Regions from separate parts of the Homo sapiens genome. Here region 1 is linked to region 2. A link means that fine-mapping ties the variant in region 2 to the expression of a gene that starts in the linked region. Tissue or cell type: subcutaneous fat. Region 2 holds a variant in brackets; the other region holds the start of a gene. All regions are shown on one strand. Distances are between the middles of the regions.

Region 1 (16,781 bases), 56 kb before region 2:
CTTCCTTCTCCCAACTTCCCTCCCTTTCTCCTTTCCTCCCTCCCTCTTTCTTTCCTTGCTTTTGTGGCGATTGTTTTCTGGTGGCATGGTAGTGGTGTGTATATGTGTGTGTGTGTGTGTGTGTGTGTGTGTGTATGTATGTGTGAAATTTTACTTGGTAAATCATTCAGAACAAATACCAAATTGTGATAGTAATGAAGTAACAAAATAAATGTGGTCATAAAAAATTATTTTTACTTACTAGATGAAGAAGGACACAAACACTATCTTACTTAGCTCTACCCAGAGTCCCAAATGCTACATCCATGGTAATGTCAACGAGCTGAGAATGGACTGATGCCCTTAGTGGGTGCTGTGAGGTTGAGGTGTCCCTCCCCTCTCAATGCAATGAACAGGTGTCATTTTAGCTACCTTCCTGAAATACCCCTTTCCTCATAAAGATCCCTCTGAAGGCAGGATAAGATAATTTATTCTCATATAAAAAGTACCATCATTATGTTCATAAAAATGGCCCACACAATGCTTTCTACTACAATTATAAATTCTGACACATGCTTGCAGATGATTTTTCAAAAATGAATAACTTAAAAACATCTTCCTGAGCCTTCACATCTGCCAAGCTCTGGTCAAAATAATCAAATCATTCCCATGCCCTCTGCTGCTCTGTAGTTCTCAGAGAGAGTCACACTTTTACTTCTAAGACATCACAACTGTTTGTTAACAGCACCTTCATTAAGTGCTTGGCTCAAACAGAGATTCCCTGGAAATTCAAACCAAAAAAGGGCTAAGTAAAGAGGATACAAGTATAGTAGGGTCATTTTGATTTACTGTGTAATTATTGCTATGCGAAATGCATGTAAAATACTTAGAAGAGGGTGTGACATAGAAAAGCTCAGTAAAGGTTAGTTTATTATTTATTATCATTATTATTTGGATGTATAAAAGTTCTGAGCCAAGATACTGGTGAGTGCTTTTTATCTTTGAGATATATATATATATATATATATATATATATACACACACACACACACATACACACACACACATACACACACACACAAACGTATATATTATCAACTCTTTTCCTTCTATCCATGATATATATATGTGTGTGTATAGATATATATGCTCTGAGCATATATATACACATATGTGTGTATACATATATATACACATATGTGTGTGTACATATATATACACATATGTGTGTGTACATATATACACATATGTGTGTGTATATATACACATATGTGTGTGTATATATACACATATGTGTGTACATATATACACCATGTAAAGTACATATATACATATATACACCATATATATCATATATATACATCATATATATACACCATATGTATATACACACACATATATTATCAACTCTTTTCCTTCTGTCCACTATATATATGTGTGTGTATAGATATATATGCTCTGAGCATATATATATACACATATGTGTGTGTGTGTATGTGTGTGTATATATATATATTTACCATGTAAAGAGGTGAGGGGTTGCTGTCTTGTAGCTCTGCCTTTCATCATGCTATATCACACACAGGATCCAAATGGGTGACAAGTAGAATACTTGGTCTATATTATTACTGTATACTTTGGATTGCAGGCATCAGAGGAATACATGGTTTTTCTATTTAGCATGCAGGACAATAAAGATAATAGAAGGAAAAGAGTTGATATTCTTCAATGCACTAAGGAAATCTTTTCGTTGATTCTGATGCAATTTCAGACCACTTTGAAAAAGATATTCCTCCAGTTAATTTACCATCCACCCAGGGTTACCTCCCTTAGATGGTGATTTTTTAAAGGTAATTTTCAAGTTTGCATTTTATGGTAGAGATGAGTAGTGTGTATAAATATGTTAATGATGTAATTATGTTTATAAGGTGGCATTTAACAGTAGCACTATTTATAAAGAGGAAAATGCACCCTATGTAAAAATGGCAATTTTGATTCTATTTCTATTCTTATGTTTCCCTCTGCTGTAAAAATTTACGTCCTCATCTCTTTCCATTTCACTCACTTGGACACTTCCCCAAGTTAATTTTTTCTTGCTGTTTTCTCTTCCTATAACTTATTAGGTCTCTTGGATATCTTTTGGCCAGACCTACCAATTTAGGAAATTAGAGAAAGAGAAAACACAGTGTTCTTTCAAGTGCTGAAATATGAAGATAAATCATACCCTGTGGTATGCTAGCTTTATGTGCCTCATCTTCTTCATAAGTCGTTTCTCCCACAAGATAGTACCACATACACTAAGAAAAGCTTGCAAACCATGCTGCCCATTTACATGACAAATCAAATTTAATATTAACACTCTGGCATTAATGAAATTCTACCTCTTATAAATCATAACAAGGTGATCTGATTCCTGGAAGAAACCAGCACCCAATGGTGTTAGTGTAAAGATATTAAACAGATGAAATAATCTTTAATAGTCTCTGCATATGAGTCTACTCCACATTTATGAATGTGTGCTCAGAGCATTCAGCCTTCAATAACTTTTCTTTGTTGGAAGAGTTGAAAGTTTCTTGGAGAGTTCAATTTTGAACAACTAGACTGTTGGCTGCAGATGGCTCCCTCTGACCCAACTATTTAGTAGTAATTTTGAATGCACCACTTCTTTGAAGGGTTGTTTATACTCTCCCCTCTTCCCTTATCTTCCTACTTTGTGGGTGATAGCATCACAAACACTATACACATTTGGTTCAATAGCTAATTAGAGAGAACCTGAAGTTCCTCATAAGATTGTTTTGAAAAAGAGAGGCTTCTGTACGAATAGAAACTTAAAAAAGTAGACCAGTTAATCTTTGGAAAAGGCAAGCTGGAACAAAAATATTACTATTTAGTTTCAGTAAAGTGCTTCAAGCACTCATCTGTCTTCAAAATAAAATAAAAATCCCAAGGGAGAAAACAACATGAAAAAAACGAAGAAGAAAAGAAAATCAGCCCATATGCTGCATTTCTGTATTTCTTCTCTAATATTCTTGGAACATTGTCACAACTGGGTGCTGTGTTTGCGTGTGTGTGTATGCCTTCTTCTTTCTGCAGTTCTCCTATTACCATAATGTTCTTGAGTCTTTGAATTTAGAATCATTATTCAGAAAAATATTTAAACCAGAGAAAGTTTGATTGTCTACATTTTCACTTTTTTTGTGAAGTAAATAAAGTGTGCTCAGTAGACACTGACTAGGTTGAAACACTGTTAAGAATGCAATTCAGACTGAGTCACTGCTTGTTATTTTTATAAGTGAGACCCTAATTCTGACGGACACCAAAGAATAAGCAGCCATGACTAAGCAAGAAGCACAAGGCAACTGGATTCTGCTGGATGTTATCTTATTTGGAACACATTTCAAACTTTAGAACAGATTTTTAAATTGGAAGTTGAAACCTGCAGGCTGTCAGCAGAAGAGGCTGATTCACCCTACAGAAATTATGCTGCTCCAAGTTCCAGGCAGAGTATTTTAAGGAGTAGGTTACCTAAAATGTGTTGTGATACATCAAGGAAAGAAATGAAACAGAAAAAACCTGGAGTAAGGATGACACAGGTATCTAAACAGCTTTTGGATGTTCAACATATATTTATTTGAACGGGGAATTCTTTGAATTAGATGGCCTTAGTTCAGCATAACTTGTGAATGTTCACAGATTTCTGAAACAGTCATTGCACTTTTTTTTCCTGCAAATATTTCTTTTCTTGTTGTTGGTTGGGGGGCGGGGGGCGGCGGCGCTCTTCATGTAGAACTTTTGGAGTTCTAAATATAATGTTATTATTGTTATTGAGTAAATTAGAAGTAAGGAAGTAGAGTCTTGGAAAAGATCAGAAATAAGAAAATCTTATATTGATGATGGTAAATTCTTTATTAATTGGCCATTGCTTTCATTTGGAATCATCCAGCAGTTACCAAAAGTCTAGATATTCAGAAAACCATAAAAATATTTGTAAGTCCCCTAAATTAGAGGAAGTACAGAAATAATAGCAATAATGATTTGACCTGTCACAAATATTAAGATAGTGCTTAGAGAATACTAACTTGTCTACAGAGAAAAAGTTGTTATACTCTTATCTTAGGTAACAAAATCCATTCTGCAGCTGAACTCCAGGGAGAAATGCATGGAGTGACCCACTAGAGGTCCCTTCCAACTAAAAAAAGTTTGAATAGTTCAAAGGATTCAGCCTTAGTGTGTTGGCATTCGTGACTGCAAAGCAACTACCGGGCCAGAAGGGGGGACCACACATTTCAATTCCTTAGGAAGATTGTAGTTTCACTCAGAATATTGGTCACATTTCATTCCTTTTAAAGAAATCTCTGTGGGACATTCACTCAATTAGTCCTAATTTTCAGATTTGGTGCTATAATAATACAGTATCATATAATACCCTGTGACTGTAGCTGTGCTTTCTAGAAAATTTTTAGCTGTTTTCAAGTGTCTCGAGCAGTATTTTGCAAGGTACATTTTTTCTTAAAAAGGAAGAGTGCCTCACTAAGTTTTTCCTTGCAAAGCTGATGGAAGTGGTGGGTGGAAGAGGTAGGGTACACGTTTTTTGATAGTAGGCAACTTGGTAGAAAATGATTATGTTTCCATATATTATCTTTGCAGAGTTAGCAGTACAAAATGTAAGTGCAATAAATTGGTGTAAAAGCCAGATAGTAAAGGGACTAAAAGTCCCTATGGAGATACCAAACTGTCACTTTCTTGTAATGGTAGCAAAAGATAATTGTAGACACAAATACAGTAGAACTGAATTGGCACCATTTTCCTTCAAAATTGGGCTGCTGCCTCTTAGTTTTTCTGAAGAAATTGGTTACTTCCTCTGCTTCAAAAGTATGGCATGAACCATTACATTAGGTGGGAAAAGATCTGTCTTTTATTTTCCTTCAGTACCTTTTTAATTAGAACACATCAAAGAGCAAAAGGGGATGAGATACAACCCTATGTGATTGCATTTTCCAGTCAATTGTTGGGTTTCTTTTAAGTTTCTGAGCTCTGCATTGACAATCTGGCCTCTGGCATAAACTTTACCCTCCTGGTTATGACATAATGAAGACATCTGCTCAAGCATACCCCTTTCTTCACACAACTGGTTTTACGGTTCTCTAAAATGCAAGCATAGAGCCGTGCAAGTACTATTACACACGGGATGATGCTCAAGTCTCAGGTGAAACTGGAAGAGATTTTTTTTCTCTCTCTCAAAGTAAAATCCTAAGGGTTTTCCTTTTCAGGTAAAGCTTTCAGCAAGAAAAGAAAGGAAATAAGCAACCCTTGGCACTATTCATATAAGCATATTTGTTAGTCCTTCTTGGAAGAGTTGTACATTAACTAGGCATATCCCTGGGTTCCTTTTTCCAACACAGGGAGGAGTTTGCAACCCCCTGGATAATTAACCACTCAGAAAGCCCACATTTTGATCTGCACCCCTCCAGAGCAGCCATATATGTACACAACAGCCACTCCTGCAACATTCTTGCAGGGAAAACCTCTTCCTTCTTTCCCACTGTGTGCTTTACGAAGTGAAAGTGAAGATTCGCAGAGACACGGTCTGATACACCTCTATAGTATGACTATCATCATTTAAATTTTTTTTTTTTTTAATGGGAGTAGGAGACAGAAATGTGTGGCTATTCCAGATGATTAAACTTCTTGGTTCTTGAATGTTCTGAGTCATAGTTAACTCAGGTGGCCAGCCCTTTGCACTGACAGAGACCTGCATTTAACTCCCCATAAAATATGGATTTTATTGCAGCAGTGACACTTCTTAGCACCACGCTGACCTCTCCAGCATCTCCCATCTCGAGATCTACGGTAACTCATGACAGAATATCTAACTACGGAAGAAGTAATCTCAGCTCTGCAACTGCTGCAGTCCACAACATTGCAGCGTCCCTTTTTATTAAATTCTGGGATTAACGCATTGGGGGCTCCAATTTTCCAGCATCTGGCACCGAAAACCAAGCGCACTCCAACCACTCTCCAATCAGTCCGGGGAAGGCTTTATCCCCCAGATTTGAGCCTGGCCAGCCGTGGAGGAGCACGAGCGAACTGCGCCTTCCATATGACTTTTCCCTGGACAGTGTGCTCCATTTTCGGAGTCCAGTGTTGGACTTTCCTTGCAACCTAAGCATTTCTGTCCTAGATGAGCCGGCAGGCGTTGCCCGGAACGTGCAAGCTAACAGTTTTCTTTAGCTCCTTCTACCAGCCAAATCGTCTCTTTAGTTTAAGTTTTCCTTACTGGGAGCATTCCAGAGTTTTCAGACTACCTGATTTTCTGCTTTACCCCAAAAGCTAAGAAATGTAACTCAGCCCAAGCAGTCACCACGCAGACCCTTATGATGCGGGCAGGTGGAGATAAATCAAGCCCCAAACGGCTCGGCGGGACCTGCACGCACCAGCGCCCTTTGGTAATTGACCAGCCAACTTTGCAAATGCCAGAGCTCCCCTGGCAGCCTCTGCCGGCGTAGAGAAAGGCAGCGGGTTCTTCTGCGGCGGCCCGCTTCCCGGTGCCCCCACCCAGCCCCACGGCGGATCGGTCTTACCAGGAGGCGGAGGAGCGGTGCCCAGGCTCCCCGGGAAGCGGCGTCGGTCCTGAGCAGCGGCAGCAGCGCCGCCCGCGCAGCCGGACCCGCGCGCCCGCCCCGACCCGGGCTCGCAGGCTGAGAGCATCCCTCCCAACTCCGGCGCGGCACCCACCGGGCGGAGAGGGCTCTCTCTCTGATTGGCTTCTATCAACGCTACAGAATTAAAAAAAAAAAAAGGGAGATGTATGCATAGCCAACGGAGCCCGAACCCACCTCTGCTCGCCTTCCTGCGCCCGCGGAGACCCTGCGACCCGCCCAGGCTGCTCCTGCCTCCGCCGCCGCCGCCGCCGCGGTCGCCGGCTCTGCCGTTCTTGCTGTCGCGGCTGAAACTGCAGCTCTTGGGATGCGAAGGTTACGGGCTCGGGAGAGCTGGCTCTTGTGGGCACACACTGATTTGCAAGTGAATGAAGTGGGAGGGAGCAAAGAGAGGAGGACTTTGTTAAAGAGGCCCAGTGCCTGCCCCCGCCCGCCCCCTCCCCTTGACAGAATGACTCCCAGTGTTTGAAGTCCTGAGCAATTCGCTCCCTGGAACACTCCTTCAGCCCCAGGCTTTCCCTTGCTTTCTTTCTTTCTTTCTTTCTTTCTTTTTTTTGTTGGAGGGGGTTTAAGATATACTCAGAACTTGTATGACTCCGTCTGTTTCCTCTTTTGTACTATCAAAATGCACCTTGTGCTATTATCAGCAATGGTCTGATGTTCTTTTTTTTTCACCGACCAAGCAATTACAATTCCCAGGGACACAGTACCTCGTCACTCTATCAGTTGGCCAGCTTCGTGTGATAGCACGTATAACATGCACACACATAAAACAAGCCGGTCTCCTGAGATGACAATACCGATGGCTTTTCTTTACAACATAAACAGGCGTTCTCCAGATGCAAGCAGACATGGATAGATTCATACATGTCTTTCCTTCTCTCCTCCCAGGAAGACACGCTTTCACGTAGCCCCATGATCTCTGTTACTCTTTTGGAGTGACCCCAGGATGTCGTAGCATGAAGCCATGCTTCCCTGGGCTTGCAGAAACACTGAAAACCCAAACCCTTCAGGCTTGCCAATGACTTATGACTGATGCCATCGTTCTAAATGAATTGATACAAGCATACAAAAGACTTGCAGAAGAGGGGTGTACAATGATATTCAAGGTCTGCTTAACGTTCGAAGATCCTTCTGGAAAGTTGCCGAAGTTGGATAACCTTCAAATTAAACTCTTTAGTACACATAGCTGTTTGAATGGCTAGATTGATAGTTACAAAGAGGTAATATCTAATGTTAAGGTACTAAGCCACAAAAATGTGAAACATGTCAAAGTACCATTAAATGAGAGTAATGATTTTCTACATAGGAGACATAGGCATGATGGAGTCAGCCACTGTTGGATTAGGAAAATTAAATCTAATTACCACAGTGATTGCACCCAGGGTCACTAGCCTCCCAAACCAGCTGTTCGCCTGTGCTGCAAGTTCTCAGGGAGATTTCCATTGCACAGAGCTCTAAGAAATGCCAGGCTGCTTGGCCTCTGAGTAGTTAAACTGGCTGGAGGTTGGTCCTGTTCCCAACTGAGCTCTTACTAGAAAACCTTTTGTTTCTCCAATAGAAGTTCAGGCATTTAAATAAAGCCCAAATCAAAAGTATTCCTTTAGGCAGCCAGTGCTTCAAAGAAGTGTGCATGGAATGGTTTTAGCACAGATGTTCTGCACATGGAAGATGGAAAGATTTGAGTTTCTTTCTGGAAAAGACCTTCCCCAAATGAAGAATTGCTACCAATTTGTGAGAAGAGGCTGAACATTTTCTTTTTATAGAGCTCTTTAAACACGTATGAAGTAAGAATGGGGGAGAAGAAAGCTGCTTTAGATTCATAGTCCATTCGTCAGATTATGAATTTCTTATACATTTAATTGGAAATATTAGCTCTGTGTGTCTGTGTAGTCCTTTACTGTTTACAAAGTACTTTTGTAGACTATTTTATTTAATTCATCCTTCAATAAGTGGTGTCATATTTTCCCAATTAAGACAGAGAAAACAGACTGATGAAGAGACAACAGAAGTTACATAACATGTCCAAGGCAGTGAAACTGGAACACACAAGAAGCAGAAATATTATTGGTAAAAGGGTGTGCAGGTGTGTATGCAGACATAGAGACCCACAGATTATATGTACAGGTATAATTTATTAGCATATGTGGTAGTAGGATAATACATGAATACATAATACGTAAATATGTCAATAAAATAAGTCATATTTTAAGACCACCTTTAGCAGAAAAAATGTGCAAATTGGCTGATTTTTATGGTAGAAGAGGGTTGATAGTGAAGTTGATTTTCTGTCTGTTGAACCAGTTAATATCTCACAAAGGAAACCTCTAATTGTTTGCAATATACTATTCTTCAAACCCCATTAAGCTACATGTCAAAGGTGTTTAGAACAACAACTGTATGAGTGGACAATCCGTTTGCTTCTGAACAGTTCAGGTGGCAGCATGAAATTATATAAAAGACAGCTCTTGTACTAAAGGATTTTATGTGATTTTTGAGGCTTTCTAGTAATATTTGTCACAATAATTATTCATCTTCAAATACAGGATTGATGTAAATATCTAGAATTATTTTACCCTCATTTCAGAGACTAGGAACTGAGAGTTACTGAGGCTAAATGATTACTTGGAGTTGTGTAAGTTCTGTTTCTGGTTTGTTCTCTATCATCACACCAAAACATGTTGGCAAGTAACAGTAGCCCATCAGAGATAGTTAAGCAAATGAAGAGGTATGTGTCATTATTGTATAGGGTTTCTCCTGAAAGTTAAGGGTGGAAATTCTGCAGAGTCTCTGGAAAGGCCCAGGGGCAGGCCCGGAGAAGCCGCCAGCATTCTTCCCCTAGCTCTATCTCCTCCTCAGGACACTTCTGCTTTCCTTTTGTCTCCATTCACACCTGCCTCCTTCATCCTCCAGTCCACAGGGCAGAACAGCACCCCAACAGTTCCAGAGCTTACCTGTCGAAAAGAGGGCTTCTCTTTCAGCCCCCTTTCTAATTTCTTAGAAAATGGCCCTGACGCCCGGCACGGTGGCTCAAGCCTGTAATCTCAGCCCTTTGGGAGGCCAAGGCAGGAGGATCATTTGAGGTCAGGAGTTTGAGACCAGCCTGGCCAACATGGTGAAACCCTGTCTCTACTAAAAATACAAAAAAATGTAGCCGGGTGTGGTGGTGCGCCCCTGTAATCCCAGCTACTTGGGAGGCTGAGGTGGGAGAATTGCTTGAACCCAGGAGGCAGAGGTTGCAGTGGGCCAAGATTGCACCACTGCACTCCAGCCTGGGCCACAGAGTGAGACGCTGTCTCAAAAAAAAAAAAAAAAAAAAAAAAAAAAGAGAGAGAGAAAAGAAAATGACCCTGATTGGTCCGGTACTGTCTTGGACCCATCAGCTGGGGCTAGCACCCCCAGGACCAAATAGAGGGGGGAGCATTTAAGGAGTGTCCTTATATCCTGGGAAGACAATCCAGAAAGTGTCCTGTTCCCCAATTCTCTTGTTTTGTTCAGTAGTTTGGTACAGCTGAAACATCTCATCAGTTTTTAGGCTACTTCATTACTTTAGATGCCTCAGTCAAAATTACTGGTGCTTCTCTCCTTTTACAGCTTGCAAAGTTTCAATTTCTTTTTTTTAAAAAAATCTCCTTTATAAACCATTATTAGGGATATTAATTTTGATGAAGGATTTTCCAACTTCCACTAAATCTCTCTTCAGATGATTAAGAGGCTATCTTATCTTTATAATGGGGATGCATATAAATAAATAATTATGTTTTCTGACTTTCTTTTAGATAATACAAATCTGTATGCAATGATTACCTGATAAAAAATGTTTTCATGATCATTAACAATTATTCTTGATTAGGAGAAAAAATTCACTTTTTAAAACATGAACTTAATTAAGAATATTGGCATCGGCAGCTCTGATCAACCAATCCAAATCATTGATCTAAAACTTAGCCCTACATGTGTTGCTGCTAGGAAAAGCACACATAGTACAATGCTTATGGCTTAATCATCATGGTGTGCACGAGCACAGATTTCAGTGAGGAATGAATGACCATCCCCTACCTCTGCTGCACGCACGCACACACACACACACACACACGCCATACACATACTGTGTTTAAGGGGGAAAAAAGCTTTAACCACTCTGGATATTATTGAATTGAAACAAAGGAGACAAGAAACCTCGATGGAATTCCCTTTTTGTAAGAGCCATAGACATCTCAATACAAAGTAAAATAAATTCACACAAAATTCATGTGATTATCCAGGTTTTCTAATCCTGGGACAGCTTCCAATACTGTATTTAAAGTGGGTTGGATCCCAGGATGCATTAAGACATCTTCATCATTATAGTTGACTCATCACTATAGGTAGATTGCAATATGCCAGAAGATTTCCAAATGTGATAAATGCACAGCAGCAAAATGTTATTGACCTACACAGGGTATTTTAGTACTCTGGGTATTTCATAGTAAGTAGTGTGGACTTCAATTTTGCTGAATTATTTTTACATTTTATTCACTGGTTTGTAGTAAAATATAAATTTGCCTGATCAGATATGTACAACTCAAGCTTGGTAGACTGAGAATCAAGATTGTATTATGGGAATGAAGGGGCATGTCCTTGTTTAGAAGAAACAGTTCCTTAAGAGGAAATGTGTTGCCTCAGTACATTCTTCTAAATAAGTGTATAGACCAGAATAAACAGAACATCTTCTACTTTCCTCCAGAGGGAAAAATAATTCTCTCCCACCAACCCCCTTCCAATTATAGAAGCACTTGATGGGAAGAGTGACAGGTTGGAGTGGGAAAGACAATATAATAGCATGTGCTAAAAAATATTTTGGGATTTTATAGATTGTGAGAACATCAGAATTTTACAGTATATCATGGCTGTCAAAAAGAAGACAAAGATTAAGATGAGAAGATAGAAAGACAACCCTCTGTCTAGGCTTTAGTAGTCTCTTCAGAATAGACAGACCTCACCTACAGCCTTCTGTTCCTCTTTGAGTACCACACTTAAATATACTTTTTTTTTCTTTCTTTTTTTTTTTTTGCTATGTCTCTACTGCATTTCATAGAATACCTATAGTACTTTGGCTTGATGTCATTGTTTACATGTTCTAGAGTGCATATCCATTGAATTATTGATGGCAGAGTCATTGTCTGTTTTGGTCATCATTTTATCTGGGGTGGTAGAAAAAGTGCTTAGTGCTCGCATGTATGAATGAGAAGAGATTCAGATAAACTAGAATGGGTTCTGTAGACAGAAGCTGGAGATGGTTATAGTCTTAAGATTTGCATATGAGCTAAAGGTAGTAAGACTGGAAAAGGAAAGGTTTAAGTTGGTCAAGGATACTTTGCAAATACTTTAGGAACTGTCCTATGGAAGAAAATTAGACTGGGTTTTAATGTGCCATACACTTCGATTAGGATCAGCTAGTGAAGCCGCTGGACGATAATTGCATTTAGTTGATTCTAAGACACCCATATTTTCATATTTTAACAACTCTGAAATTTAGATGTCTCTTACGATTGACATAATAAGAAAACATCATGTCATGGTATACTTGTCAGTGTCTCTTCTTTCTCAGCAACACATTAAGGAATGGTGCTACTTCTTGCCATTGGTATTGTAGCCCTGATGACATGCAGATGGTTGATTTCAGCTCAACATACGAAAGGATTTTCAGGCCATTTGTGTTCAAGATAAAAGGGCCTGACAGCTTTAGGATAGACATGAGCCCCATCCCTGAAGACATTTAATCACAATCTAGACAAGCTCTTGTTGTAAATGAGCTCAAGTATCAGATTTGGAAGTGAATGATCTTTTACATTTTTGTCAAGCTTGAGGTTCGTGAACTTGGATCCAACCTCTTATTTTTTGCAGATAAGAAAACAAGGATCACACCAGTTGAGAGATTTCTCCGAAGTCAGACATCTCATTAGAGCTAGAGAGGCCAGACTAGCATGTCTCCCATGATCCAGTCTGAAGCTACTTTTATTCACTGCTTATCTTTGCTTTCTCTTCAGGCTTAAAGTATAGAAAATGGGTTCCTTAATATTTTGATAAGAACAGTAACTAATATTTACTGCATACATACAATGTGCCAAGTACTTGTTCGCCATGTATATTTTTCACATTTAATCCTCTGACAGCCTATGCGCTAGATACTGTTATCATTCTTGTGCGTAGATAAGGAAACTGAGGAATGGGAGGTAAAGTAATTTGCTTAAGATCACGCAGTTAGTATGCGTCTGAGCTGAGGTTTGAACATACACTTTGAGGTGAATTCCTGTGGTCATAATCATCACGTAGGTGCCTCCAGATTGACAGAACTTTCTGTGGAATCTATGTGAAGTGATGTAAAAATTGAAACCTGCTCTAGTCTGAAATTTCTAATTTTAAGATAAACATATTTTGGGTGTTACGTGACTGTCTTCTTTATTATTTGCCTCAAAATATCTGGATAATGGCTTCAGTTCCTTAATTTATGTTCAAACAAAAGCTGTACTTTTGTTAAATTTTTGGGCTAACACAGGCTTACTAATAATGCAAATAAGTTTTCTTTTTCTCAAATTAAGAAAATTCAGTTTTATCTTCTGCCATGTGTGTACCCTGCCTGCTTCCAATTTTTCCCTATTTGGGGGTACCTTAAAGTTGAGAAAAACTGAATTTAACTTATTTATTGACCTTTATGTCTTACTCATTGTGGGCCCTTGACCATCTGAAAAGATGCATTGACTCTTGCTGGTCTTTTCTGTGGAGAGCTATCTTTGTACACTTCTCAACCCTCAGGGGTAGTCTTTATTCCTCAAAAAGGAATCCTTCACCAAGGATTCAGGCAGAATTCTTGGTCACAGCTGAGGTCTTATCTTTGCCCCTGGGAAACTGTACTTATTATCTCTCTGAGAAGGCAAAAGAAAACTGGAAATAAAGCTTCTTAGTGTCAATTGACAAGAAAATTGTAAAATCTTAGGTAAGTCTATTTTGGGGTATCTTTCCAGACGTCATAATATTCATAATATCCAAAAGCCTTTTTCATATGCTGATGGCTTGCTGAAAAATTGTGTAGTTTTGGCCAAGTCCTCATCTCTTGGCCTTAGTTTCTTCTTCTGTAGAATGAAGGCGTTGAATGGCTTTTTACTCCAGCAGTTCTGAAAGCCTTTTCTTTACCTATTGTTATTTTGCATGTGACCACTAGGGGGACAAAGGAAAGCTCTTTCTGTTGAAACTGTCGCTGCCCATTATGGATTTGGAATAATAGTCTTGAAGAACAACCACAGGGAAAGCTGATTTTTCTTAATGAGGCATCGAATACGTTAAAATGCCTTTTTATTAATTGGTATTACAGTGTGATATGAACTGGTACTTCTTTGTAAGATTTAAGAATTTGAGGAAAGCGATTATTACTGTTTCTATGACTAGTAAAGTCTTTATAAGCGTAATCACATATCTCCATGAATATTACCATGTATGAGATTTCACTGAGCCCATTAAAAATCAGGGATATAAGTCTTTGAAAAATATCACAAACCATGATGTCTTAAGAATGCAGATAAAGACATTTAAAGGATGTTTTGACATTTTTTAGTGGTTATCAAAATTGCTAATAATCAGTTAACCTTTAAAAAAACGAAAGCAATACAAATGAAACATTTCTAATTGCAAAGTGGAGAAGGAACTCAATATTTTGTAAACCAAAAAGGTCCATAATACGTTTTAGTAGCTAATCTTTATTGAACACTTACAGTGTGCCAGGCGATGTATTAAAAGTTTTTGTTCATATTCTTTTGTTTCTTTGGACAGCTCTGTGAAGTAATCATTCTTATCATGCCCGTGAGTAAATGGAGAGTTACAGAGTTTAATGTCCATGGCTTCTCACACTGCTACTGCCAGCGGGTAGCAGAGTGGAGCTTTGAACTCTGGCACCCCACATCAGCGCGGCACATCGCTGCCCAATGTAATAGCCTGTGTTATACAGCACTATCCAGATTATAAAATGCTTCATGTCCATTACTCCTCTGCATGTTCACTCCAGTTCTCTTCAGTAGAGGGTGCATTTACATTGGCCATCATTTTTTCAGGTAGGGCAAGCAAACTCAAGACAGGTTAAGAGTCCTGAACAAGAATCTACTGTTTGAAGTTAGAATTGATTTAGAAACAAGGGTTTTTTTAAATGGATATATAATATTTGTACATATTTATGGGGAACATATGATATTTTGTTACATGCAAAATGTGTAATGAGCAAGTCATATTTGGGGTATCCATCACCTCCAGTATTTGTCATTTCCACGTGTTGGGGGCATTTCAAGTCCTCTCTTCTAGCTGTGTTGAAATATATAACATGTGTGGTTAACCATAGTCATGCTTCTGTGCTATTGAATGTTATTAACTCATTCTTTCTATCTAACTGTATGTTTGTAACCAGTAACTAACCTCTCAACCTTCTTTTCGTCTCCCCTCTTGTCCACACTCTTTGCATCCTCTGGTAACTATCATTCTACTTTTGCCTCTATGAGATCAACTTTTTTAGCTCCCACATATGAGTGAGAACATGTGATATTTGTCTTTCTGTGCATGGCTTATTTCACTTAACATAATGACCTCCAGTTCCATCCATGTTGCCGCAAATGACTTGATTTCATTTTTTATGGTCAAATAGTATTCCATAGTGTGTATATACCACATTTTCTTGATCCAGTCATCCATTGATGGACACTTAAATTGATTCCACATCTTTGCTATTGTGAGTAGTGCTTCAATAAACATGCCAGTGCAGGTATCCCCTTGACATATTGGTTTCTTTTCCTTTGGATAAATACCCAGTAGTGGAATTGTTGGATCATATGGTAGTTCTATTTTTAGTTTTTTGAGAAATCTCCATACTGTTTTCCATAGCAGCTGTACTAATTTACATTCCGACCAGCTGTGTATAGGAGTTCCCTTTTCTCTATATTCTTACTGTCTGTTATTTTTTATCTTTTAAATAATAGCTATTTCAACTGGGCTAAGATGAGATCTCACTGTGGTTTTAATTTGCATTTCCCTGATGATTAGTGATGTTGAGCATATTTTTTCGTATACCTATTGGCCATTTGTATGTCTTCTTTAGAGAAATGTCTGTTTGCATCCTTTGCCCATTTTTAATTATTATAATTTTTTACTGTTGAGTTATTTTTATTCCTTGTGTATTCTAGATATTAGTCCCTTGCTGGATGACTAGTTTGCAAATATTTTCTCCCATTCAACAGGTTGTCTCTTTACTCTATTGATTGTTTACTTTGCTGTGTAGGAGCATTTTAGTTAAATACAGTCCCATTTGTCTATTTTTGTTTTTGTTGCCTGTGCTGCTGAGGTCTGAGCCATAAATTCTTTGCCTTGATCAGTGTTCCAAAGTGTTTTCTCTGTTTTCTTCTAGTCGTTTTATAGTAGACACAAGAGTACTTTATCTTCAACTATTAGAAACAGAATCTGGGGATGAGATGAAAACTTCTAAATCCTGAGCTCTTTGTTTTGAAAAGCTTATTCTTATAGTTTACTTGTCTCTAACTTAAAAACAAGACCCTAAAATTCTCAGAAAACTTAGAACTTTGTGTTTTTGAACAACAATAATCACTCCATTTATTGAGTGCCTATTATGGGCCAGGAACACAAGCAGTGCTTTATAAGTTGCCTTTTTGATTCCCATGAAAACTTTCTAAAGTCATTCATCTCACTTTATTTATAATCTCACTTTATTGATAAGTAACATGTATCTCAGAGAGATTAAATAACGTGTCTAAGTCACTGAGCCAGCCAGTGGTCACAGCTGAACCCAAATCTTGCATGTGATTTTAACTCAATATATTTAATGAGGTTCAGGTATCATATTTGTTTCAAATGGTTGTGTTGACACTTTCTGTTCTTTGATATGAATATGACCCAAGTTGCAGCTGATAAGGCAGGAAAGAATCCCATGGCTTTATGTGGAGGTGAGAGATTATATGCAATAGAAGAGGAGGGTAAGGTTTCTGCTAGTTTGCTGTTTATTTTGCAAAATACGATTTTTTTGGTGAAAAATAAGTGCAGAGCTACCCTATTGTATAGCAAATTGGGGCTGTTGCCTTGGAGAGATTGGCTCTGAGCAGTGAATTGTAGTGC
Region 2 (16,781 bases):
CTTAATCTGGTCTGCCATTGAGAAGCTCACCATTATACCTTCTAAAACTAAACTGTGTGTGTGGATGTGTATTTAGATTCAGCATAACAGTGTGTATGATTTTTTTTTTTTTTTTTAGTTTGTGCTTTCAAGAATCAACTAAGAAAGTTCTGTTATTTGATCCTGCTGATGTTCCCTTTCAGACAGCTGCCACCAGCACCGCTTGGCCACTTCCTTTTTATTTCCTATTCCCTTTCAACTGTCTGGCTTACTTTGATATGATTTCGTCTCTCTCTGTAACGGCAATGAGAGAGGATGTTTTTTCCCAAGGCCATGGCATGATATGCCTTTTAATTCGTTTTAGGCTTATTACCTTACAAATTTAAGAATGAATCAGGGCTCTATTTGCTTGGGCCAAGCATGCTTTAGAGAAGTGGGAAGGTAAGAGGACAACGTTAGATCACGTGTTCGCTTGGTGGCCCCTTTCTAGGACAGAATTGGTCGTTAGAGGTTTGATACCTGGGTCTGCCCCTTTTCTGCCTTGTGACTTTGGATAACCCACGTAATCTATCTGCTCACTGCCTCCTTCTTTATAAAATAGTAAAGAGAATATAATTTTACCTTCCTGGACTCCTAGGGATGCCAGGAGCTTTCAGATCATGTGTGAAAGTTGCTTTAAATTCTCTGAATTCCATGCAAGAATGCTTTTAAAAAGGCTTAATACAAAAATGTTACACAGAGAGCAGATTTTGTTTTGGAAAACAATGTGTGTTTTCTAGGAATAATATTTCCATTGCACAATTACAGTTTTTGAATTTTTTTTTTACTGTGACTTCTGGAACTTATTTTTAACACATGATTTAACAATATGCTGTGTTTTTGACAGCCTTATATATCTTTCTCGAGAAATCTGCAACACTGTGCTGTTAATTTGAACCTAGGGAGTGAATCTGGTCCCCAGTGAATATTGCCATCACTGGAACCCGAGGTCCTATTAACAATCCACAAAATAGAAATCACAGGTAAGGCTGCTACATAGTAGAGTGACTCTTTCCTGTACATTATAGTGCCATTTTGCAATGCATTTTTCTTTCTCAGTCATTCTCTCTTGAATTGCATTTGGCTTCTGCCTGACCTATTAGTAACTCCAAGATAGGATACATTACTCGCTAACTTTTGGGAAAGAAAAAACTTTGCGATTAACACAGAGACCATCCATTTATATTAAATAATATGCATAATGAAGTAGGCTTGTATTTATAATTCCTTGTTTCTAGATATCTTCCATTCTTTCTGGGTTGGATGGTGGCAATTTGCCACTATTTTCTTCAGAGGAGAGGGAGCATATGGTTAGTTCCCTAGATTTGAAAATCCAGACCATCTATATTCACTAATGAAATGATTTTGAAATATGGAAATTATTTCTTTCTCTCTAGAGACCAAAACTGTGATCCCCATCTCCAGTTTCATCACCCTCCAGGGTAGCTCCAATCATCCCAGAAAGTGGCATGAAAATTTGAAGACAAAATTAATTTTCATTCAGTTTAAATTAAAAACAAAGGCATGCCAAATTGAGCTGTTAAAGAAAGGGTTATCTTGATAACCAATAAATGCCATTTTCAATCTGAAAGTGTTCTTTCTATTCAATCCATGTTGTAAACTAGCTAGGAGCAATGTGAGACATACTCAGGGTGGTGCCTCCAAAAACAGCAGACTAGGGAGAATCTCATTATTCTCCAGAAAGTTCCTTTTTTCAGATTTTCTAATTAAGGCTTGAAATAATTTCAGGACAATGTGAAGGAGGCAAAATTATTGTTTAAGGTTGATCCCTGCTTTTTGTTAGATCTGAATTCCATTTGAACCATAGAGTTTCTCCATGCTGGGATAAAAAACATCTTGTTTCATTTCTTTCCATGTTATGTTTTCTGTCCATCAGCCCTAGAATCCTTACCCAGTATCATCTGCCGGGTGCCTATTAGAAAGTACTCATAAGAAACATCCCTTACCTCATTGCATCACCACCCATCATTACCATGCTTTTAAAGGAGTATCATTACGTCAGTTAAATGGTCTTTCAAGAAAAAGAATGTTTTTTATTAATCATGGCAGCGTGGTCCTCAACATTTTTGCATTATTTCTTCTCTTCTGATCCTATTGCTGAAGTTCAGCATAATTTCTTTTGAGCCCAAAGACATCTTATTTCTTTCTTGCTGTCTATGAGATGTCTGCCTCATCTTAAATGAGATCCCTTCTTTTTCTTCTTTACTTAAAATATCTTTAGGATCATTTCCAGGTAATTTTTACATTTATAGTTCACACAAATCTTATATTTACAGCCCCATTGATATGAAATGAAATTATAAGCACTTACTTTCCTTGGCACATGATTTATTCTCTAGCACTGAGGAAAAAAGACAAGTCTCAGATTTCACAACAGCTGAAAGTTATAGTAATAGCAAACTGTGTTCTGATCAGTGGGGTCTGGATGTTGGTGTGAATCTTGGTTTGCAATTTGGTAAGATCTGAAAAAGTGTAAATAAACAAGGTCACTATCCTGTTGGGCCTCAGCCTACAAGATGCTAATGGAGGCCCTGATGGATAAAGGACTTTTCATTCGTGTAGTACCTAATATTCCTATGATTTTCTGTTTAGAAAATGGGAAAATACATTTCATTATAAATTTGAAACTTTCGAGAGGAGTGAAGAGTGGGATGGGAAAGGAAGAATATTCTTTTTATATTCTGATATTTTTTCTTTTTTTTACCCCAATTTTCAATGATAATAATAATTATTAGTAGTAGCAGCACTATTTTATATAAAGATCCAGATGCAATTGAAGTCTAATTTAGTATGAAAGAGGCATCACAGATATTTCTGTCCCATAACAAGAAAGTTTCATTGCATATGGAATATGTATGGTGATTTGACTCCCTCCATAACCAATTTTGGATCTTTAAAGGCAAAGAATATTGGCAAGAAATGCAAATGTCACATGTGGCCGAGACACATAGCTGAGCAGTCTATGGGGCCTGTCCAGTGAGGAGATGCTACTGGGCAGTGACAGCTCAGCTCCTGGCTGCATGTCCCAGTCTCAGTCCTAGGTCAGGCTATGTGACTAGTTCTCACCAATGGAATATGAAGAGGAGTGACAGCCAAACCAGTGTGATTAAGAAACAGGTGAGCCTTGGCACCCCACAGTGTCTTCCACCACCTACCGGCTGAGTGAAGAGCACTCCCATGGCCTAAGATGGAAGAAGTGACCATGTGGAAGGCTACCCAACCAAGAAGACTCTTACTGATTCTGATGTGAGAAATATGTTTACAGGCCAAGCACAGTGGCTCTCGTCTGTAATCTCAGCACTTTGGGAGGCCAAGGCAGGCGGATCACCTGAGGTCAGGAGTTCAAGACCAGCCTGGCCAACATGGTGAAACCCTGTCTTTTCTAAAAAAAATACAAAAATTAGCCAGGCGTGGTGGCACACGCCTGTAATCCCAGCTACTCGGGAGGCTGAGGCACGAGAATCGCTTGAACCTGGGAGGTGGAGGTTGCAGTGAGCTGAGACTGTGCCACTGCACTCCAGCCTGGGCAACAGAGCGAGACTCTGTCAAAAAAAAAAAAAAAAAAAAAAAAAAAAAAAAAAGAAAGTCTGGTGTAGCAGCTAGCATTTATTAACACTTTCATAAATATAATATGAAAAATATCCTATTTTAGTTTTGGGATACTCAGCACAAACCATGTGCAGCATAGTCAACAGTAGGAAGAATCAAACTGAATACATCCTTACTATGTGCCTCTTTCTAATTTCAACACTTGAAAAATACTCTAAAATGATTCACTTATTTCTAGTTTTTTTGATTATCTTTCTAACTGACAGTATTGCCTGAAAGGCTTTTATGAGCCCTTTGAAAGGCTGAGTTTCAAAGGACAGTTTATTTTAAAAGTTTATTGTATAGTGGGTCATCCAAGTGTGTGCCTATCACTTATGTATAATAATATACAGCACGTGATTCAAATGTATGACATGTAAGGCTTTGCATGTGGCCATATATTAGCATTAATGTTTTGAATATTGTACAGCAAAATGTATTATGAAATTCTTATCATGAGATAATTAAAATCGTTCACATGTCATAAGAACTAGAAATGACAATGCACTGGATATCAACACTTGATAAGGAACAGATTGTACACGCCCCAACATTCTAGCCTTTACCATCCTTTGGCATTGATATTTTTCTTTCTCTTATTACTCTTTCCTTCTTTCATACAATTCCATGCAGACTTGACAATACTTCAAATTCTACAGTGTCTCAATGAAAATGTGACATGATAGTATAAATGAAGATCGTAATTCTCGTTTTACTTACCTTCATTCTAATGTACAATGGTTCTGAAGGCTTTTACTTTAAATACTACATAAGGAAAATTTTACTGTTGATCACAGGTGGAAATATATTTATAACTCAATTGCAATTCACTCATTTCTTTGGGGACACAAAGTCCTCCAGGGAGAGTCAAACATTTGCATAATGCATCCCAATACTCAGTTATGTATTTGTAACTTTGCTTTAACCAAGAGATATGTAAAATCACAAATGACTGGTCAGCTCCCTATAGGATGCAACTGAGAAACCTTAAGAATCCCATTTTCCACTTATTAAAATTTAATGTCTTAATATTAATAGAGGCTATGAGCTAGGTTCTTGTTAAGATTTTCAGATGAGAATCTGAAAATGGGCCAGACTTAGCCAGTACCTAGCCATATTTTGAAATGGGACAATTCTTTCCTTTTTAAAAATCTGTACTCTGCACCCCTTTCTCTCTCAAACTTGACTCTTCCTTCGTAAAAATTATGTTCCTTTTACATCCTTTCTTGGTGGCTAGTGTTTACATTTTGGCCAAGGTCTATTTTCTGTTGTCTCAGAGGAAAACAATTTGATACTTAAGTTCCTGGCTTCCTATTCTACTGTCACTCTCTATTGTCACTTCTTGTCTGAATTAGTGCAATAACCCTCTTACCTGGTCTCCCTAAATCCAACCTCCCTACTTCTTCGTTTGTTCTCCAGACTGTATCCATAACAATGTTCCAGAAATGCAGATCTGTTCATGTTTCTCCCCAGTTAGAACCTTTTAATGTCTTCCCACTGCTTTCAGAATAAAATTTAAAGTCCTTAACAAGGTGGATAGGATTTGGATTTGAGGTCTGGCTTGTTATTTATGGCCATGTGACTTGACCTAGTTAAATCACAGTTTCTCTTCACCATTGATTCTCATTATTTGTGGTAGTTATGCTCTGTACATTTTCCATAAACACTGAATTAGCAAATATCGAATCATTGCTCCTTGGGAAAATACAGGATTAGGTTCCTGTGAGCCTCTGGTTACAACACTTTTGTCAACAGATCAATATATAACCTTGTTTTACAGGTGTTTCTGTTTAAAAACACCTTATTAAGTATATATTGTCGATTCATTAACATTGAACTCGTGGGTAACAGCATTATAACGCATACTTAAATGAAGCTTCTCTAACACACATATTTTCTCCATAAAGTACTTTACAGTTTTCTTACACTCAGAAACACTAGACAGCATTTCAGTACCATGCTTGGTGAAATGGTGAAATCACCAACAAAGCTCAAAACTCCAAAAAGCGTGCCACTTTTAAGTAGACTGTGAAAAGGACACTTGTTTATAGTTTGGGAGCTGAAACAAGAAGGCACAGAATCACCTTGTTCGGCCTCAGTCTGGAATGGAAATGCCCGTTGGGTGACTCAAAATTTTCATTTCTACCAACCCCCATTCCCTGCTGCGTAAGTCTGTGAATGACTGAAAGGATGCAGTAAGTACTGATTTGGGGGTTAAAGTAAATTTTATCCAGTAGACGAATTTTCAAATCTTGATCTGTGGATAGAAGATTAACTGTACATGAAAAGGGATATGTTGCTAGCAGACACTCTTGGTTTCCTACCCTTCATGTCCAGCTTGTGCCTTGTTGGCCAGCTGTTTTCTGTGTAGCTGTATGCTCAGAGAGCCCCAGACCTCTGCTAAACCATAATCAACTACAACATTCATGAGGGCCCCCGTTCCCTTCTCCAGTGAAAAGTTTAGGGAAGGGCGTGTGACCCAGTCTAGCTAATGAGGGGTGGGGTGGAGGGGAGATTATTTCTTGCTGGTTAAAAGATACAGCAGAAGAGATACCCTTCTTCTTTTTTTGTTGTTGAAAGATTTTGTGCCTGTCTAGAACAGCAGACAGCAGGGATGGCCTCTTAAACCACGGTGATAGGCTGAGTAGGACTCAAAAAACATTTGAACAGGACTGAGGTTTTTCAGGACATTGACGAGCAACTGAATTAACCAACCAGGACTTCTTGATATATGCCAGTGTGAGTAGGTTTTCTTGTTAGTTAATTATTTGCATCCTGAAACATCTAGATAGTAGGCTTTATTTTCCATAAGGCCAGTATTAGGAAGAGATGAGAGAAAAAAATAAAAATATACATGTGTATATACACATATATGCCATCTGTTATATGGTTGAAACTTTATAAATGTTACTTTTCCCTATTTTTTTTTTTTTTTGAGACAGAGTCTCGCTCTGTCTCCAGGCTGGAGTGCAATGGCAAAATCTTGGCTCACTGTAACTTCTGCCTCCTGAGTTCAAGCAATTCTCCTGCCTCAGCCTCCTGAGTAGCTGGGATTACAGGTGTGCACCACCACGGCCAGCTAATTCTTGTATTTTTGGTAGAGATGGGGTTTCACCATGTTGGCCAGGCTGGTCTTGAACTTCTGACCTCAAGTGATCCACCTGCCTCGGCCTCCCAAAGTTCTGGGATTGTAGGCATGAGTTACTGTGCCTGGACTGTATTTTTAAATATAGAAAGACTATGCAAGTTAAAGACTAAACTACCAAATATTTGTCCTCACTGTTTCTAATTAACAAGAAAATGAACATGAGCTGACTCAGAACCTTATGGGATATTTTATTTCAATGTTCTTGCTTAAAATCATTATCTCCTTAACTCGTTTTTCCCTCTTGGCTATCTGTAGGTCAACTATTCACTTTTTTCATATATAAAGCTCTGGCTATATGCTTTTAAATTGGAATATCATGATTATTATAAAGTTGTCACAATATTTCATCATGCTGTAGAGTAGAGAAAAACTATATTGCAGGGGCTTTGTGAATATCCTAAATGAAGAACAGCAAATGTTTAGAAATTGAGGTTTTATATATAAGAAATAAATGGAGGAGGTTAATTCTAAATGATTGTTTATTCATTCAAGTAAGTATCTATGAAATCTTTACTATAATGAAAGCATGGGCTGGGTTCCAAAGTGCTCTCCAGGGCCTATATCTGTCTCCAGGGCTTAGAGTGCTTGGCATGGAATAGGTTGTAACTTTTGGGAGACCACAGGATGTTTTTCAAACATCTTTGTACCGTCCATGCTGCCAAGTGGAGAAAATTTTACACAATAAGTCCTCAATAGACTGGGTGTGGTGGCTCACGCCTGTCATCCTAGCACTCTGGGAGGCTGGGGTGGGACGATTGCCTGAGCTCTGGAGTTTGACACCAGCTTGGGTAACATAGTAAAACCCCATCTCTATTAAAATTAAAAGAAAAAAATTAGCTTGGTGTGGTGGCGCGTGCTTGGAGTCCCAGCTACTCTGGAGGCTGAGGCATGAGAATTGCTTGAACCTGAGAGGCAGAAGTTGCAGTGAGCTGAGATCACGCCACTGCACTCCAGCCTGGGTGATGGAGCGAGACTCTGTCTCTTAAAAAAAAAAAAAAAA[AG/G]TCCTCAAAAAATACTTGTCAAATAATGGTCAGTTGTGTAGAACACACACACACACACACGCACACGACTAATATTTGCCAAAAGAATATATAATTGTCTCCTTTATTGAGTTTTTAAATGCTATTGGATGGCTTTGGGTCCTAGTATTTCCTCAAGTTCACACATTTTTCTGTTAATTACATTGCCTGAAACCATCAGAGAAGTGTCGTTTATCCAGCTTTGTAGAATGACCAGTCACTTTTTGACACTGCCATATCTCGTGGTTCGTAGGTGATAGCTCTTGGTGGCTTTCTTTCTGATTTTTCTTTCCTGAGAAGCATGATGAAGCCCCACTATTCAGCAGGGATTTGCAACCCTGCCATCTCATGTGAGTGCACACTGAGACCTTGAGCTACTGCTCTTTAACTTCCTAATAATTTCTTTGAGACATTTCTAGGATTCTGGCAAGTAGTCTAACCTAGAGCTATTGTTTTTTTTTTTTTTCTTACAGATATTGCATTAGAACATCTAGAATAAGACCATATTCTCTCTTTGATAGAAATAGTATTTAATTTCCTTCTACTAAGTCTAATATTTTTACTTACTCTCCTATTGTTTTTCAAAATGTGTTTCAATTAGTGTGACATTGGAATTGTCATATTTTCTGTACAACACACATGATAAAACTGAGAACCTTCTGATGAGACATCCCTCAATTCTAATCAAATTAACATAAAACGCAGATTTAAACTGTTTTGGGGTGCTATGCAAATGTAAATTTTATCGTTATTACTGTTAAGTACTATTTTAACACTACTGCTGAAAACATCACTATAATTTAAAAACTTACTTTTTAAGGAAAAGCAATGGATTTTTAGATTTTAAAATCTTTAGATTTTAATAAGAACAACTTACTTTTTATAGATTTTTAGTAATATTTTATTCATGCTATTTTGAATAAACCTGTTATGATGTTTGCTAACTTTTGCTGCCTCCTGTGGGATCGCTTATGTTTCTAAATGAGATGATGTGTTAGGGGAGGTTAAGTTGCAGTAAGACAAACAAATCTCAAAATTTTGGTGAATTAGCACAAAAGTTTATTTTTTTCCTCAGGTTACATGTTCATTGTGAATCTGCAAAGCGGGGGCACTACTCATTGTTGTCACTCACGGGTAGAAGAAGCCAATGGAGGCTCGATTTGGACATGAACTTCCCAGGGACTAGAGAATGCGGCGCTTAAAACTTCTGCTAAATTATGTGTTTCCTTTGTGCTTCCATTTCTTTGGCCACAGCAAGTCACATGACATGATAGGAAACACAACCCTCCCACAAAGCCAGTGGAGAACTGGAATCTTTGCAAATGGCCCTCAAGCCTGTCATCTATGTGCATGGTAACAGGAGAGGGAATTGGAAAGGTGAGTTAGGGGCTGCTTTCTGAAGTTGTGTTTGCAAAACACACAAACCAGTTTAATATGGTCAGGCTTTGTGTCCCTGCCCAAATCTCATCTTGAATTGTAATCCCCAGATGTTGAGGGAGAGACCTGGTGGGAAGTGACTGAATCATGGGGGCAGTTGCCCCCCTGCTGTTCTCATGATAGTGATGAGTTCTCATGAGATCTGATGGTTTTATAAGGCAGTTTTCCCTGCTCTTGCTAGCTCTTCTCTCTCCTGCTGCCATGTGAAGAAGATCCTTGCCTCCCCTTTGTCCTCCATGATTGTAAGTTTCCTGAGGTCTCCCCATCCATGTGGAACTGTGAGTCAATAAAACCTCTTTCCTTTATAAATTTCCAGTCTTGGGTAGTTCTTTACAGCAGTGTGAAAATGGACTAATACATAGTTTTACCTTTATTTTGTTTCTGTGAGGTGTTTTTCAGTTGAAGGTATTCATGGTAGATAGTAATAGAGAAGCTGTAGCTGTTACAAGCTACCTTTTTTTTTTCCTCCTGCCTGTACTCATCTTTAGGAAGTATATATAATTTTAAACTCTGTGGGCTGAACAATAAGTGAATTATTGCACGAAGGACAATCAATTTAAAAGTTTACTTATATGTGTGAAGTTTAAGACGATTAAATGGTGATTTTTTTAGATATCAATATCTACTGCTTTTATTGTCTGCTATATAGTAATAGAGTAAAATCCTTAACCCGGTTATAACAAGTGAGACACAGCTTCCTCCCACACATGTGCAGTGTTCTCTTGACTACTTTAAAAAACGTGAGTACTTTTTCCCCTTTGAACTGCGTGCACGTTAAAAAAAAAAAAACACAAAAATCATGTCCTTTTAAGTGTATTTAATATCACATGATATATTCATATTTTTCTGTTGCCAATCTACTGACAGATTATAAGAAAAGAAAAGCAAGAGAGAGAAGAAAAGAAAAATGGAAACCATGACACTGTCATGGTGGCAGGTAAAAGTGTGATTTTTTTTTTTTTTGAGACGTAGTCTTGCTGTACCAGGCTGGAGTGCAGTGGCCCCATCTCAGCTCACTGCAACCTCTGCCTCCCGGGTTCAAGCGATTCTCCTCCCTTAGCCTCCCGAGTAACTGCGACTACAGGCGCGTGCCACCATGCCCAGCTAATTTTTGTATTTTTAGTAGAGATGGGGTTTCACCATGTTGGCCAGGCTGGTCTCGATCTCTTGACCTCATGATCCGCACACCTCCACCTCCCAAAGTGCTGGGATTACAAGCGTGAGCCACCGCACCTGCCTGGCCAAGAGCATGATTTTTGAGAAGGGATTGGAATGGCCCTGGGTAGTAGGGAGGTTTTATTGGCCTGAGTACACATCAAAAAGGCTATTTTCAAAATCAGCTTAAAGAAATGTAAGCCAAAATGAACTAATTTTCATTTAGTAGGAATTAAAAAATAAAAGGTGGGTGTATTCTTTTTTGAGCACAAGTTTAGTATTCAAGTGACTGCTATGCCAAGTGGAAAGTAATGCCCTTAATGGAAATATAATGAGTAGTGAGGTCAAGAAATGGATGTACTCTAAATTATTTTCTTAATAAAGAACAGACCTTTATTCTCTAATTTCTTTTAATTTCAACAATAAAGATTTTTAAACAATAGAAAAAGGGTGAGAACCTAGGTTTCTATTTTATGAAATGTTATCAAAAATTCTTAAAAAAGTGTCAAATAGGACTGTCTCATAAATGTGTTTATTTTTCAGGGACTTTGAAGCTAGGTTTCCTTAGCTTTTGAGTTGCTTTCTTTTGTTATTGAATTGCCTTCCCTTGTTTGTTTATTTCCACACTATGAGGTGGGTTCTTAAGGGAGCAGACACCCTCCTGGCTGCATAGCGCTGGACTTGAATATGCTCGGTCCAAGGAAGCTATCATGGGATGGAAAGGCTTTCTGCAGAGATGTCTCTGTTCGCAGCAAAAGAGGAAACAGGAAATGACTCAGGGCAAGTCTTGCTAAACTGGAAAAATCAATTAGACACACTCCTAAATAGAATCAGAAAACATTATAGTCAGAGAAAAAGGAGAAAGTGTATGAGAAAGGTTGCTTTCCATTCCCACCTGGGAACTGAAAGACGTTTAGGGAGGTGCAATACCTCTCCACTGCTACAGGTTTCTTTCCAGTCATGTTAACCTGTATGGGGAATCACGACTGAATAGATATTTTCATTATTTCCATTGATTCTGCTTTTAACATTTTTATTTTAAAAATGTTTTCTAGTTACAAAAGCAGCACAGTAGACTGGAAACAAAAATGAGTGAACTTGACTGAAATATGCACTTCCCACTTAAACATATGGCAAATAAAGCCGTAATAATAGCTCTGACCTCAGAAGACTGTCCTTTACATTACACAGTGCAGATTTGGGCAGTGGTCTAACATCAGGTCTGCAACCAATTGCTACAATTGAGTTGCAAGCTTTACATTTTTTTTTTTTTTTGAGACGGAGTCTCACTCTGTCGCCCAGGCTGGAGTGCAGTGGCGAGATCTTGGCTCATTGCAACCTCCGCCTCCCAGGTTCAAGCAATTCTTCTGCCTCAGCCTCCCAAGTAGCTGGAACTATAGGCGCGTGCCACCATGCCTGGCTAAGTTTTGTATTTTTAGTAGAGACGGGGTTTCACTATGTTGGCCAGGCTGGTCTTGAACTCCTGACCTTGTGATCCTCTCGCCTTGGCCTCCCAAAGTGTTGGAATTACCACATGAGCCACCGCACCTGGCCCTACATTCTTAAGTCATATTATTTAGGCAGGACATTGAAAGCTAAGAAAGCAAATTTATTTCTCAGAAGAAAACTCCCAACAATAACTTCTGTTGGTCTTCATGTTGCTCTAGTACAATTGGTCATCCTATATCTTAAAAAACAAAACAAAACAAATGGAGTTTGAGAGTCTAAAACTCAACATCAACTACACAGCCTCTCATTTGATGAACTCTTAGTTTTTGCTTATTTTTAAGCCTATCTGATAAGGATGTTTAGTACGTTATTGCTAAGCCTCTTTGGACATTTACTTTCATTTATTCTGAGTACCAGAAATTCAAAAGACAGGATGAAATGGCTACTCTCAGGAATGTGTAGAGTCTATAATAAAATCAAAATATAGACTAAATAACAACACAACCAAGAAAAACAGAATGTGAGCTGAAGAGAAAGAAAAAAGAAAACCCCAGCATCTCAAAATTAAGCAGTCATTAGTGTTTATATCAGTTGACTGATGTATATAAGTGAGAGTTTCTTGCCTCATCTACTTTCATCTTGTTCTCGTCTTCTCTTCCCTTTTCCCTTCTTCTCTATCATGATACTTGCTAGAAATTTATGCAGAAAAGAAAATTGATAGACAAAACCTAAACAAATATTAATAATCCTTGCACACTTACTAAGAACCAGGAGACAACCAAACCCCCCCAAAAATATTAATCCTAACAGAAAATAGTATTTTTGGGTACTCTGAGATACAGACATCAAAGGAATGTCCTCATGCAGAACTCTCTCTATGACATTGTTTTTGGGGGAATGTAATTAGCACCTATGTTATAGCTTTCTATTAAGCTCATAGTTTATTTACTGAACTGATATTTTGGAAGTCAGGCCAGCCACTGTACACTTGATGCTTATCCATAAGTTCTAATAACATTTAGACATTTTATCGATTTCTAAGCAAAATTACATTTTTGTTATTCAACATTGTCTTTTTAGAGTATCCTATTTCCACCACAGTCGAGTGTCCAGAGGCATCAACAGAGCAGCGTTGCGTTGCAACATATACATTTCGCATTTCCTTAGTGGCTTATTTGTCATTAAAAGGTTTGAAAAGGTTTCTGTTCCCCAAACTCAGGTTGAGAAATATTATCTGGTATTTACACATGTCTATGTTTACTGTCTAATTTAATTGTGAGTCAGATTGAACACAGAAGAAATGAGACATTTGCATGGTCATGATTATCAAGAGGTCGAAAGTACTATTTTCCTTGGGTGATAACCCAGTGAGTGATGCGGGACTCAACACCGTGGTCGACTGCACACATTTCAGCACCATCGCACTTGGAAACCTTTTTGGTTCAGTGCAGAACTTCTTAAAGATTAAAACAGATTTATGGTATCAAAAGGTATTTTGATGGTCAGCCAAAATTCCACACGGATGGGATTATGCCCCATAAACTTTATCCTCCTTTCCAATGATTTTTAAATATGATTTTTAGAGATGGATTAAATGTAGATTCCTTTGTATTTGTAATACATATTTCAAATTACTACAATAGATTTACTGTGCAGGTCTGCGTGAACTCCAGGGACCTGAAGGCCGGCTTGGTCAAACGACTTGCAGGAGTGTTCTGGTTATTAACATGCTTAATGTTGTAGGCCAGATGAAATAAGGAAGCCAGCAGAAAAGCCCAGCTTTCTTTGGAGACAGTACACTCTATCTTGCTTTAATTTGCTCCTTGGAGTCTGTACACGCTACTGGTGATATAGGTAAGGCAAGGTTACAAAAAGGTCTTTCTACTATTACTCTAAGGCAGAGTTTCTGCATTATAATTAAATTCTGTAAATTTGGGCTTCCTTAAATGCATAAAATCACAAAATACTACATTTTAGTTTATAAAAAAGGTTTACAATCTCTCATTCAAAACTCTTGGGATCTGAAATACTCTTAAAAGCTCAAATTCTCCCTCCCCCAAACTTTAGAAAGATAATATTATGCACATATTGCATATGACGCAATCAATGCTATCAACAAAGTCTAGGTAAAACCCCACTATCAAACACATTAATATTTTTCCAGAAAATGTGAACGTTTGCAGTAAGCAGGATAAATAGAAAACATGCTCTCCTCAGTTCAGATCAGATTTTGTCATCAAGCTTATGAAAAATCTTGAAGTTTTTCAGAGCTTTTTAGATTTTGGAATTTCAAAAAAAGAATTATGGGTCTGTACCAATTTTGCTTTTCTGCTACAACCTGGTAGACTTTGTGAAGCTTTGAAATATTTATCAATAAAAGGATGCATAGTGAGATTATTTTAAAACATTAAATGTTTATAATATCTTTAAAATATATGGAAATATTCTGTTATAATGTGTTGACATAAAGATAGTATAAGTAAGTATTACTGGTAACTAGTTTATACAGATGCAAGCATTTTTGTTTGCTTCACAAGAGAATGAGATGAAATTGCATATTTATTTATTAATTTTGAGATGGAGTTTTGCTCTTGTTGCCCAGGCTGGAGTGCAATGGTGCGATCTCAGCTCACTGCAACCTCTGCCTCCCAGGTTCAAGTGATTCTCCTGCCTCAGCCTTCCAAGTAGCTGGGATTACAGGCATGCACCACCACGCCCAGCTAATTTTGAATTTTTAGTAGAGACGGGGTTTCACCATGTTAGTCAGGCTGGTCTCGAACTCCTGACCTCAGGTGATCCACCTGCCTCGGCCTCCCAAAGTGCTGGGATTACAGGCATGAGCCACCACGCCGGGCCTGAAATTACATATTTAAATTAAAAAAATTTTTCAGGCCAGGCCAGGCTTGGTGGCTCATGCCTGTAATCCCAGCACTTTGGGAGACCCAGGCGGGCAGATCACTTGAGGTCAGGAGTTCGAGACAAGCCTGGCCAACATGGTGAAACCCCATCTCCACTAAAAATACAGAAATTAGCCAGGTATGGTGGCACGTGCCTGTAAACCCAGCTACTCAGGAGGCTGAGGCAGGAGAATCGCTTGAACCTGGGAGGCGGAGCTTGCAGTGAGCCGAGATCGCGCCATTGCACTCTGCACTCCAGCCTGGGTGACAGAGTGAGACTATGTCTCAAAAAAAAAAAAAGTTTCATTAGAATCTTTGAATACTGGTATACTTGAGATACACATAATCATATCTGTCCTCCAGCTCCCTTGAATCTGTTGCCTCTTTCTTACTCCTGGCACTTTCCTTCTGTAGTTACTACTTTTCTTTCTTGGATCATCAAATTTTCCCTCTTGATCATTCAAGTCAACCTATGATCTTTCTCTGGATTATTCTGTATTTAAAAATATCCACAACAGGATTTAAATGTGCAATTTCAGCCGAGTATCTAAATAAGATAGATGCTGCATTCCAGAGTAGGAATATGCAGAATTTCCAAAGGAGCTTTAGAAAAGTTGTTACATGACCCTGGAATTCTACATGCACTTCGAGAAGAAAAGGCTCAGATTAAAAGCAATATTTGGAGAGGATTTCTTTGAACACAAGCAGCCCCCGTGAGATGAGTCTTCTTCCCTTCTCTGCTGTCTCTCATCTCGGGTGTGTGACAAGACCTTCAAGACACGACTTGAGAGCGTGATGATGCCTTAATTCAGGTGTGCGACCCCATATTGAAATACTTAAAAGGCAGAGATGGGATAGTCGAGAAAACCAAAGTGAAGACATATTGAGGCTGCCTAAGGTCTAACTCTATTCCCAGGATCTGTTTGGGCAAAAAAAACTTATGAGTGTTTCTTGGGGATTTGTTGAGCACTGTAAGTGAGAAAAAGCTGTTCTGGAGGTCCTTGTTGATTTGACCTAATAGGATCATCTTTAGAAGATTGAAAAGGCTTCAGCAGAGAAGAAGCTGGAGATGACCTGAGGAGAGATTAGGGACCTGCAAGAATAGAGGACATTCATCTGGCTGGGGAAAGGCAAGCGAGAGGCCACAAGTGGTCAAAGATTGTAGGAAACCTGTGCAGAAAGCTTCACAAGTGACAACTTTAAACATCCACCAAACCAAGAGCAGAAAGCCGGCTTACAAAGTGCCAGTCCTGTAAGCATTTACCCATACTCTTCATTTCTCTTGGTCTCTGCTTCCTCCTTCTTCCTCCTTCCCACCCCAGACTGCATGCAGACTTATCTCACCCAGGGAATTTATATGTTGTTACTTCTATGGGAATTATTGGATTTAAAGTTGGAACTCCATATAGAAATTTTTTATGAAACTATAATTTATATATAAGACTTTCCTTTGAATGAAATTGGAAGCTCTGACTCAAAATGGCCCTGGAGATTGTAATTATAATTATCAAACTGAGATCATGTTTTGTGACTTAAGGTGACTGTAGGAGTTTGCAATTACTAAGAGTAGTTAGAAAAGTCATGGGATTGCCCAAGTTTTCATTCAGGACAAAAAGAAGAAAGTAATCGTTGAGTTGAGTTTAAAAGAAGAGTTGGAGGTAAAAATAAATTTGGTCATGATTACACACCCTGAATCTTTTTTGGCCAACATAATGCTTTCAAATTTTATCTTTTTCTTCTATATTGTAAGCATACCTTGGAGATATTGTGGGTTTGGTTCCAGACCACCACAATAAGGCAAATATTTCAATGAAGCAAGTCACATAAATTTTGTGGTTTCCCACAAAAATATAAAAGTTATGTTTACGCTATGCTGTAGTCTATATTAAGTGCATGATATTATGTCTAAAAGTATACATACCTTAATTAAAAAATATGTTATTGCTAAAAAAATGCTAACAATCATCTGAACTTTCAGTAAGTCATAATCTTCTTGCTGGTGCAGGGTTTGCCTCATTGTTGGTGGTTGCTGAATGGTAAGGTTGGTGA

Which allele goes with the higher level. Alleles are on the strand shown, and positions count from the first base shown. SD is a standard deviation of normalised expression in the study named.
For the expression in subcutaneous fat of the gene that starts at base 7,016 in region 1, allele AG in region 2 goes with a higher level than allele G (large effect, 0.93 SD a copy in TwinsUK).

What was found. PIP is the estimated chance that this variant, and not a neighbour inherited with it, causes the effect.
Region 1: CDH6 starts here. The variant in region 2 is fine-mapped to the expression of CDH6 in subcutaneous fat (TwinsUK, PIP 0.95).

The regions. Positions count from the first base shown.
Region 1 is chr5:31,183,921-31,200,701 of GRCh38, reverse strand. It overlaps CDH6 (cadherin 6), which reads right to left and starts at 7,016. Exons shown (of 12, transcript NM_004932.4): 1 at 6,816-7,016.
Region 2 is chr5:31,128,033-31,144,813 of GRCh38, reverse strand. No RefSeq gene overlaps it. Among named protein-coding and RNA genes, the nearest start is that of CDH6, 57 kb to the left of the region's middle. The variant AG/G (reference allele first, on the strand shown) is at 7,776.